Regions from separate parts of the Homo sapiens genome. Here region 1 is linked to region 2. Evidence: fine-mapped expression QTL. A gene starts in region 2. The other region holds a variant in brackets. All regions are shown on one strand. Distances are between the middles of the regions. Region 1 overlaps LINC02608 (long intergenic non-protein coding RNA 2608). Region 2 holds the start of PPP2R5A (protein phosphatase 2 regulatory subunit B'alpha).

The links. PIP is the estimated chance that this variant, and not a neighbour inherited with it, causes the effect. A credible set is the group of variants that fine-mapping cannot tell apart.
Region 1: its variant is the best candidate, but not a certain one, in a credible set for the expression of PPP2R5A in whole blood (Lepik 2017, PIP 0.79).

The regions. Positions count from the first base shown.
Region 1 is chr1:212,253,068-212,258,440 of GRCh38, forward strand. All of the region lies in intron 1 of LINC02608 (long intergenic non-protein coding RNA 2608), which reads right to left. Among named protein-coding and RNA genes, the nearest start is that of LINC02608, 29 kb to the right of the region's middle. RefSeq lists a silencer at 1-37 and enhancers at 3,110-3,611, 3,225-3,404. The variant G/A (reference allele first, on the strand shown) is at 2,785.
Region 2 is chr1:212,282,679-212,288,051 of GRCh38, forward strand. PPP2R5A (protein phosphatase 2 regulatory subunit B'alpha) reads left to right here and starts at 2,732. Exons shown (of 13, transcript NM_006243.4): 1 at 2,732-3,613. The coding sequence starts at 3,433. It overlaps LINC02608 (long intergenic non-protein coding RNA 2608), which reads right to left and starts at 2,343. Exons shown (of 4, transcript NR_125984.1): 1 at 2,301-2,343. RefSeq lists an enhancer at 2,245-2,324 and a silencer at 2,495-3,464.

The DNA of each region.
Region 1 (5,373 bases), 30 kb before region 2:
TGGGAGGTGGAGGTTGCAGTGAGCTGAGATCCCACCACTGTACTCCAGCCTCAGTAACAGAATCAGACTCTGTCTCAAAAAAAAAAAAAAAAAAAAGATCAAGACAAGGTATTAGGATTGTAATGAGTAGGCTATAAATGATACCACAGGGCAGATCCAGAATGTAGGACATTCTACAGGCCTATTAACTTGAGGGGAAAAGTAGAGGAGAGACTACTCTAGCTTAAAAGGAGTTAAAGGGCTGGGTGTGGTGGTTCACACCTGTAATCCCAGCACTTTGGGAGACTGAGGCAGGAGGACTGCTTGAGGACAAGACTTAGAGGCCAGCCTGGGCAACATAGCAAAATCCTGGGACAGACACGGTGGCTCAGGCCTGTAATCCCAGCACTTTGGGAGGCCGAGGCAGGTGGATCACTTCAGGTCAGAAGTTCAAGACCAGCCTGGCCAACATAGAGAAACCCTGTTTCTACTAAAAATATAAAAATTAGCTGGGCTAGGTGGTGTGCACCTGTAATCCCAGCCACTCTGGAGGCTGAGGCAGGAGAATTGCTTGAGCCTGGGAGGCGGAGGCTGCAGTGAGCCGAGATCACGCCACTGCACTCCAGCCTGGGTGACAGAACGAAATCATCTCAAAAAAAAAAAAAACAAAAAAAACCATATCTACAAAAAATACAAAAATTAGCCAGGCATGGTGGTGCATGTCTGTAGTCCAGCTACTCAGGAGGCTGAGGTGGGAGGATCGCTTGAGCCTGGGAGGTTCAGGTTGCAGTGAGCAGTGATTGTGCCACTGCACTCCAGCCTGGGTGACAGAACGAAATCATCTCAAAAAAAAAAAAAAAAAAGATTGAAAAGAGACCTCACAGACATAACCAAGTACAATCCTCCCAAAGTGCTGAGATTACAGGTGTGAGCCACCATGCCCGGGATTACAGGCGCCTGCCACCATACCCGGCTAATTTTTGTATTTTTAGTAGAGACAGGGTTTTGCCATGTTGGCCAGGCTGGTCTGGAGCTCCTGACCTCAGGTGATCTGCCTGCCTTGGCTTCCCAAAGTGCTGGGATTACAGGCATGAGCCACCGCACCTGGTTCTGAAAATGAACTTTTAAAAAGAACAATTTGGGAAACTTCAATATAGACTGTAGATAAGAAGGAATTATCAATTTTTGGCATTGTGGTGATAGAAGAAAATACCCTTTCTAAGATGCATGCTAAAGTATTTGGGAGTAAGTTGACATAACACCTATAATTTGCTTTAAAATGCTTCAGCAGGCTGGGCGCGGTGGCTCACGCCTGTAATCTCAGCATTTTGGGAGGCCGAGGCGGGTGGATCACAAGGTCAGGCAAGTTCAAGACCAGCCTGGCCAACATGGTGAAACCCCATCTCTACTAAAAATACAAAAATCAGCTGGGCATGGTGGCACATTCCTGTAATCCCAGCTACTCGGGAGGCTGAGGCAGGAGAATTGCTTGAACTGGGACCCAGGAGGCAGAGGTTGCAGTGAGCCAAGATCGTGCCACTGCACTCCAGCCTGGGGTACAGTGAGACTCTGTCTCAAAAAAAGAGAAAGAAAAAAAACTTCAGCCAAAAAGCAAAAAGGTGGGGAGGTAAAGGGAGGATAGATTAAATACGTATGGCAAACTTGATGGCTATTGAAACTGGTTGATGGGGTCATAGGGGTTTTTATGTAAGTCTGAAAATTTTTATAATAAAAGTGGTTTGTTTGTTTTTTATTTTTTTTTTAACACACTTGCACATCATCTGTAGCTTGTCTGTTTTTTAATGAATGGCGTAGACACTGATGGTGGAGTTCAGACGAGGGTGTAGTAGCAAAGACTAGAACCACTACAGAAAGATTTGCGGGGGAGATGGAAGTGTGCATTTCCTTCCTCCCTTCCTCCCTCCCTCCCTCTCTCCCTTCCTGTGTTACCATCTCCCATACCAGGTAGGGTGCGGTATTAAAACAGCATGGCAGGAGTGTGGGTATCTTTTGGGGAGGTGGGAGATTGCCTGGGGAAGTTGGTGGCCAGAATGGAGAGGAATGTGGGGAATGCCAGGCTGGGCACCCGGCTGGACCTTGTACTGAAGCCAGTGATGAGGCTTCTGTGCAAAGAGAGTGATGCAACCTGTGTTCCAGGCAGATTAATGTGGATAATGCTGGCGTGAGTCCGAGAGGTCTGGTAAGGGGCTGTTACCCAGGTCCAGGCATGAGGAAGGGATAAAAGCTTGCATTGTACAGAAGTGACAGTGACAAGAGACATTTCAGATGAATCAAGAATCAGCAGAATCTGCTGGTGACCATTTATGAAGCTAGTATGGGTGAGGCAAAGTAGTACTTGAACAATGGGATAAATGGCTGTCCTGTTTAATGGAAATAAGGAAACTGAGATGATTTGGGAGATGAGGATTAGGGGTTGATTTTGAACGTGCAAAATGGGTGGAAACAGAACAACCAAGCTGAGATATTTCAAACAACAGATTGTTCCAAACAATAGGCTATTTCAGGGGTGAGATGAGGAGACTCAGAATCAAATAGATCCACTGGGATGAAATCGTTCACCCCGGCCCCTTTCCCATATAAAACCTGATTGAAGTTTGAGGATGAAGGTCTGAAAATGAATCTGGGAAAGTGAGTGGTCTAGCCAAGATGGAACTATGGGGGAGGGTGAGGAGACAAGTTGGTGTCTCCACAGGTGCTGAAGAAACCTCGCTTTTGACATCCTGCTCTCCTGTGACTTTGCTTCCTGTTGTGATAGGAGAACCTGCCCAGTGTTCCATGGGGCAT[G/A]GCTCTAGAGTCATTCTGTTTACACCGAGCTGCCTCTCGGTTGGATAACTGTGTGGCTGAAGAACGACACGGAGCATTAAGCTAGGCCCCCGAGAGTGGGGACCAGCTCTATTTCCCCTGTCCCAAGTACACAGGATATAACGTGCCCTCCCTGGAGATGTCCACAGGGTGCTGCTGACCTCCCAGGTCCCTGCCTCACAGAACAGGGGGATTCTCTTCCTGTCATGACTATTTAGTTACTGGGCTAACAAACAAGAAAAAGTCACATGGGGCAGGATTTCAAGAGCAGAGTTACTTCAGTTGCCTGTGGAAATAACACCAGGTTGTGCAAGAAGACTTTTAGGCTGAAAAAGGCATGTTAAATCTTGGTCTGATGGTCTGACCATCTGAAAAACACAGCCCGTTTTTTCTTTTTTGGAGCTGCAGATAGGACAATGATGAGACCGTACCTCTCTCATGCCCCACAAAAGACACAAAAAGAGAGAGGCCTGAGTTTTGTGATACCCGAGAAGATTTGCATTGGTTTATCTGAGTCCTCATTTTCAGCAAATGACAGCAAGAGGCCAATAAGACACAAAGGGATTTTTTTTTTCTTTTTTTGCTCAACTGCCTTCCTTCCTGCTAAAAATCTCTCAAGCTCTGCCCATCCCTCTTCTTTACCCCACCCTGTCCCTACCACAAACCCACTTCCTCCTCAAAGTCCCAGCCCTCCCACTAGCACACTCTTTCTCCCCTGCCCCTTCTGCTCCCCTCCCATGGCTGCTAGCTCAGGGGTCATGCCCAGGCAGCCTGATGCAGGCCAGGATTCTCACTTCACTCAGCAGCCCCCAACAAAGCTGGCACTGTCTAACTGGGTCACCTTGGGAGAAGGCAGGCAGGAGTGACTGGGGTTGTGTCCTGAGAGCACGGCCAACATGGCCCTGTCTTGTTGTAATCACTTTCAATATGGCTTCTTATTATCACTATTTACAATATTATGAATGTATGAAGAAGAGCTACCACCAAGTGAGTACCTACTGTCTTCCAAGCATAGTGCTCCACACATTACATGCCTTTTCTCCTTTAATCACCCCGCAAACACATGAAGTAGCAGCTATCACAATACCCTTTTTAAACATGAGGAAATAAGGTTTAGAGAGGTTAAGCAACTTGCCCAAGACCAGGTAGCACCAAGCGGCAGCACTGGGATGCAGATTCAGATGTGCCTAGTTCCCAGCCCCCTCCTCTTAACCATCTTGACATAGGCTTGAGTGGCATTTATCTTGACTTATTCCCACCTAATGAAGTAGGAAGACCATTCAAACAGGAAGCCATCTGGGGTGAGGGGAAGCTGGTCACTGGGGATCTGGGGTCAGACTGCCCAGAAACCATGGGGATCTAGAAATGGTCATCTGCAGAGTAGCCTGCTCTTTCTCAAGGGAGTTGTGGCCAAGCTCTATCTTTGCCAGGCCTCTGGGCTAATATCCTAGTTGGTTTAGTGGTAATAGGGCCAAGGTCACGAATCTGATTCCTTTGTGGGCCAGTGAACTTCCATCCACTCCAGTGTCACAGGCAGCACTCCTAACTTTGACCAACGGTTCTCAACTTCAGACCATTGGATGAGAATAAAAATGGTTTAGGCCGGGCGTGGTGGCTCATGCCTGCAATCCCAGCCTTTGGGAGGCTGAGATAGGGGGAATGCATGAGCCCAGGAGTTTGAGACCAGCCTGGGCAACATAGTGAGACTCCATCTCTGCAAAAAATACTTTTAAAAACAATTAGCTGGGGATGGTGGTGTGCACCTATAGTCCCAGCTACTCAGGAGACCGAGGTAGGAAGATCACTTGCGCCTAGGAGGTCGAGGCTGCAGTGAGCCAAGATTGTGCCACTGCACTCCAGCCTGGGTGACAGAACAAGACCCTGTCTCAAAACAACAACAACAAAAAAATGGTTTAACACAACTCTTTAATTTTTTTAAATAAATAACCCATAAAAGCATGTACTCTGCAGATGGATGGGCAAGAGTTACAACCCTTATATAAAAACTGTTTTCTATTTGCAATAGAAGAGACCTGGTATCTCAGTGAATCCCAATCCCTGAAAGGACAAGCTCCAAATTTACTCCTTCTCTCCCAAAAGGTATTACTGGGAAATGGTAGAAGTGTTCCAATCCAGTTGAGATATCACATTTTAATTGTTTTGAGCTGGTTGAGGTCACGACACACAACGTTCTCATCAGGTGTCTCTGAGACAAAAGCAAAATCTTAATGTTCAGTAACTCAGCACAGATCCAGTACAGGACACAGAACACTGTGGAAATGAATACTATGAGGAAAAGCTATACAAACTGGCCTCTTGTAGAGATGGCTGCAGACTGTAGGGATTGTGAATGATCCCAAACAGGCTCTGGGCCAATGAAGGAGGCAACCTCCACTGTGTACACAGCACTGCAGTGGGCTTGGTGGAGAGCCATGGCCGTCTGTGAACTTTGGCCTGAACTTTGGAGGAGACAGAGCACACATGCATGCATGCAAAAACAGACAGAAACATGCAACCAAAACATTGTGTACGTAATGGTGGGAGGGCAGAGAGACAAAGCGAAAAGAACCA
Region 2 (5,373 bases):
TAGTAGAGACAGGGTTTCACCATGTTGGCCAGGCTGGTCTCAAACTCCTGACCTCGTGATCACCCACCTCGGCCTCCCAAAGTGCTGGGATTACAGACGTGAGCCACTGCGCCCGGCCTGTACTGATTTTCTTTCTGCTATTTGTCTCCCTTTCTTATTTTATGTAAATTATTATAAATAGTACTACTCCTGACTTACAGACATTTACATTCTGTTTTTAATAACTTCTAGATGACTAGAGAATAGTAGTTCCAAACTTTTGTGTACATAAGAATAACCTAGGGAAGTTATTAAAAATAGACTTCTCAGTGCTCTTCCCATAGGTTCTAGTTCTGTTGGGGGGAGGCGGGGGAGGTCCAGGAATCTGCATTTTCAATAAGCACCCCAGAGGATGCTGATGCAGGTGATCCAGTAACCACGCTTTCAGAAATTCTGCTGTTGAGAACTAAAAATGTGATTGTTATCCTCTGCTCAGTAGGGGAAACAGAGGTGTAAAATAAAATAACTGAGTTCTTGCTCTCTTGGTGTTGACAAACTTTCAGCTGTGAGTGGTGTGGACACTAAATGCAATAGGAATACAAAGAAGGGAGGCATCACTTCTGGCTGGATTGTCAAGCTTCATAAAAGATAGGGGGTTTGAAGAAAAGAAATTTCAAAAAGATGAAAAAAAAATGGGCCGGGCGCGGTGGCTCACGCCTGTAATCCCAGCGCTTTGGGAGGCGGAGGTGGCCGAATCACGAGGTCAGGAGTTCGAGACAAGCCTGGGCAACATGGTGAAACCCCGTCGCTACTAAAAATACAAAAAATTAGCCGGGCGTGGTGGCAGGTGCCTGTAATCCCAGCTACTCGGGAGGCTGAGGCAGGAGAATCGCTTGAACCCGGGAGGCGGAGCATGCAGTGAGCCGAGATTGTGCCACCATTGCACTCCAGCCTGGGTGACAGAGCAAGACTCCGTCTCAAAAAAGAAAAAAAAAAGTGGATTATTTCAAGATGTTGGAACAGCAAAGACTAAGTGTTGAGGATGCATAACTTCTTTTAGGGGATCAGTATGTGGAATGATGTGCCTGAACTAAAAAGAGTTTTTGTGGGCACATGTAGGAATTTACACTTGGAAAGACAGGAGTCAGATCGCAGAGAGTCTTGAATTTGGACTCTATTCTGCAGGTATTGGGTGGTTCCTCAAACACGCAGGTAAGATAAAAGTGATCTTAAAAGATTGATGTGGCAGTGAGTTTGAAAGCCGTGAACTACGTTTGGCGGTCTTTGTACACATTGGGAGAAACGCCAATTGTGAAAGTAGATTTAACATGATCTGGAGCTTGACTATGTGAGAAAGCGAAAAGTGTCAGAAACGCTGCTGAGGTTTGAACCTCCTTGACTGGGAGGATTATGTACAATTTCACCGCCCAGCAAATCTGAAGGAGGAAATGTTTTGAGGATAGTATGTTTGGTTCTAGGTCTAGAATTCAACTTCCTGCCAAATTTGGAATCTTCTGTACATATGCATCAGGTGGCTTCGTTTAAATATACGACAATTACTTTTATTATGTTGAAAGGAAAAGGTCTGGAGCTCGAGGGAGGGGATTACAGATTTGGGTCCATTGGCGCAAAGGGAGGCTGACTGTTCAGATTAATAATTATTAACGGCCACCGTATGGAAAGCACTGCACGAAAAACTAAGATGACCAGTCCTCGTCCTTAAGAAATTCAAAATCTAGACGGAATCTCCAAGAAAGAGATTCCGGTAAGAGTACATGGCAAGCCTCCATATCCACACACCACTGACCAATGAATTTGTACTCTTCTCGTTGGAGTAGTTGAGGGCCTTTGGCTCAAGGAGGGGTGAAAATTAGCAGGATACTAAATTGGGAATGAGAAATCTCTTTTTAGAGGGCGTGGACTTGCAGAACTCTTTGAAGCAGCAGATGCTAGACTGCCCAAACCCCACGCGAGAGTAGCTCTCTGGAGTTGCGGAGTCCGAACCTCCCAAGAGCTACAAATTTATTCCGCAACTACCAATTTTGCGGTTTGGGGCCAGTAAGGCGCCAAGACCCGCCCAGGTGTCCAGACCTCGCAACGATTGGACGAGCTCACCTTCTCGCCTTCCCCGGGCCCCTCGCCCGTCAATCACACTGCTTGCTCGCCACCTGACCTCTGCTGCGCCCCCTTTCAGTGGTGTAACACCTGGCGCTCTTTCGCGCCCCAGCCCTCCGGCGCCCCACCAATCGCTTCAGTTCTTCATTGGCCAGCAGAGAGGTGAGGGAAGGGAAGGGGCGCTCTATTTTGCTCTCTGAACGCACCCTCTCAAGTTTCCCAGTCTTCTCGTAGACGGTCAGGAGAGCAATGACAGCCTGGAGCAGTCGCGCGTGAGCGCAAAAATGCCCGCTGGTGGAGGAGCGCTTCCCCTCCCTCCCAAGCGATTTGCCGCATTTGTTCTGACGCAGGGGCACCCCGCTCGCCGTCTTCACTTACGATTGGCTGTGGCCGAAGCCCGTCACACAGCCCGCCCCACTCCTCTGCCTCAAGAGGCCGCACCTCACGCCGTCGCTGCCGCTTAGCCGTGTGATTGGCTAAGAGGGCTGGCATGCTTTCCCGCCCCCTCCCCCGCCGCCGCACCAAGAGGCGGGCGGGACCCCGCGGAAGTTGTCAGTCAAACTCCTCCTTCCCACCCCTTGCGAGGCCCCTCCCCGGGCCGCGCGCCCTGGCGCGCGCACACGCGCACACACTCCCCAGTCGCCTGTACCAACCACCTTCTCAAGTTGTAGCGGTCGCTCGCCTGGGGTTCTCCGTGGGCGGCCGACGGGCGCGTGGGGGAGGGGGTTCGGGCCGCCCAGCGCGGCAAGGAGCGAGTGTGTGCACGCAGAGGGCCGGGGCTACGGGGCAGCGCCCCGGGCGATGAGGGGCCGGCGTTGACCGGGAAGAGCGGGCACCGCGGCAGTGGCTCCGAGGGGACCCGCGATGGCAGCGCCCTGAGAGGAGGCTCCAGGCAGGGCGGGCTGCGCTGGCAGCGGCCGCTGAGGTGCTGGCCGGCCGGCTGGCTGGCGACGGGGGCAGAAGCGACGAGAGGCGCGCTCGGCACCCGCACCCCCGTGCCCCCGCCTCAGTTGTCTAAACTTCGGGCTCTCTTCCACCCGCTCTGCGCGCCCAGAGTCAACAACTTCTTCACCCCCCTCCGCCCCCGCCCTTCCCTCCGTCAGCCCCGGGAGCTCGCCGCGCGCCGGGGACCAGGAACCTCCAGCGCTGAGATGTGGCCGTGAGGCGTTGGCGGGCGGCGAGGAGAAGCTCGGCGGCGTCCCGGGGCCGGAGGGCCGTGGGGCCGGGGCGCAGGGGCGCGAGCACCCCGCGCCTCTCCCCCGCCTCCTCCTGCCGTCTCCGCCGCTGCCCGTGCCTTGCAAGCAGCAGCCGGAGCTGCCAAGCGTCAGGGCCGCGGAGATGTCGTCGTCGTCGCCGCCGGCGGGGGCTGCCAGCGCCGCCATCTCGGCCTCGGAGAAAGTGGACGGCTTCACCCGGAAATCGGTCCGCAAGGCGCAGAGGCAGAAGCGCTCCCAGGGCTCGTCGCAGTTTCGCAGCCAGGGCAGCCAGGCAGAGCTGCACCCGCTGCCCCAGCTCAAAGGTAACCTCCGAGGGCGCAGCCCCAGCAGCGAGCGCAGGGGCTGGCAACGCTTGCCTCTGCGCCAGCAGAGCCATTTCCTGCTGGGTTTCTCCTGCTCAGTTGGGACTGGTAGTGTGTGAGCCGAGTTCCCCACAATGCCTTGGCGTCACCTCACGCCCTCCTCCTTATTCAAACAGGTTTTCTGTGAAGTCTTGGCTGTTTCCTTCTAATTCCCACCTGAACTCTTTCCATCCTAGGGGAGGCCAACACCCTTCCCCACCTGCGCGCTTGCTTAACCTGCACTTCCTATCTTGCGTCCCGTGAAGTAGAGTCCTTCACTCCTCTTCCAGGTTTGCCCTTTCCCGGTCTTGCTTTAACAACCGCACGAACCTTCCCCGACCTTCACTTTCCCGAGTGTCAGCTCCTCTGTTCGGCCACTTTTAGCTAGTCCTTTACTTTTACAGTTATAAAGCCGTCTGCACCCACCTTCTTCTCAACTTCACTTCCCATTGATTGCCCCTAAGAGTCATCAGACCAGGAATCCGAATGCAAACAACGGTTAAGAGTTAGCTGGCCTTTGGATGTATTTATAAAGAAAAAGCCTAAAATTTGACCAGTGTAGTATCTTATTCACAGGATCGTTAGCTTTAAATGGTATCCTTTAGCTCAAGGAATAGATTTAAAATATTCTGTTGTCTGAGCCGATACACATGGTCTATTTGGAAATACGAAGGAGTAGGTAGTGTTGCTTTGCAGTCGAATGGGAACTTAGTTTGCCAGGCAGTGATTCCAGGGACTTTGTAGGTTTGTACAGGAATTCAAATTGGTATCCGTGCCTAATGCCTTGCAGGAGAACTTGGCACTCTTTTTGGCTCACTTTTCCCACTAGGTTTAGAGGATTTTCGATGTTATTTCCTGGTGTTCTAGTTTATTCTTTGTGTATTACTCATGCTTAATTTTATAATTTTAATGTCCTTGCTTTTTATGAGATAGAAATGTTGGAACAAGATGATAATGCTCCTACATATTTAGATAAAATTTGCAACCTGACGGAAATCCCTATCATCTGATGTTCAGATTTTTCAATTCATTTGAAAAAGCTGCAGCATCCCCTTCAAGGCCAGTCTGGTTCTCATTTGTCTTTGGGCCTGTGAATCCAGCCTTAGTTTGGCAAGGAGTCTAAAGAAAACCCCAGATCAAATCACAGTTGACCTACAACAGCTCCAGAACCCTATTGAGACCCTACCTTGCCCTGACTCTTGGAGTGCTTCTAAATCATGACATCTCACAGTTAGAATCAAACTGGCTTTTGAACAGAGATTTTGAGATATTAGTCTGTGCTATCGAATTTATCATTTGATTGCTCTTTAGCATATAAAAATTGTTAAAATTTACATAGCAAAATGGTAGACTATAATGATAGGCATTGCCAAGACTTTAATTCTTGAATGATGTCATAGCTATAAAAGAATATCGTCTTTGCTATTCATAGATTTTAAAATTTACACTTATTTAAAATATCATAGTTTTTTTATACTACTGATTTTTTTTCTCCCATTAAATTGTCAAACTGTAGTTTGAAGGTTTGGTGCTAGGGTTATTTCATAGTTATTTAATTTGCTTTTTAGTAAGATATTCTAGTTTCTTAGTATTGTACTTCTTAATAGTATACTTTAATAAAAGTAATTGAATATTAAACATTTGGTTGGTTTCAAGCCAGGAGATGCAGCTTTGATAGGTTTTGCTTTTATTTTATTTATTTTATTTTATTTTTTCACTTT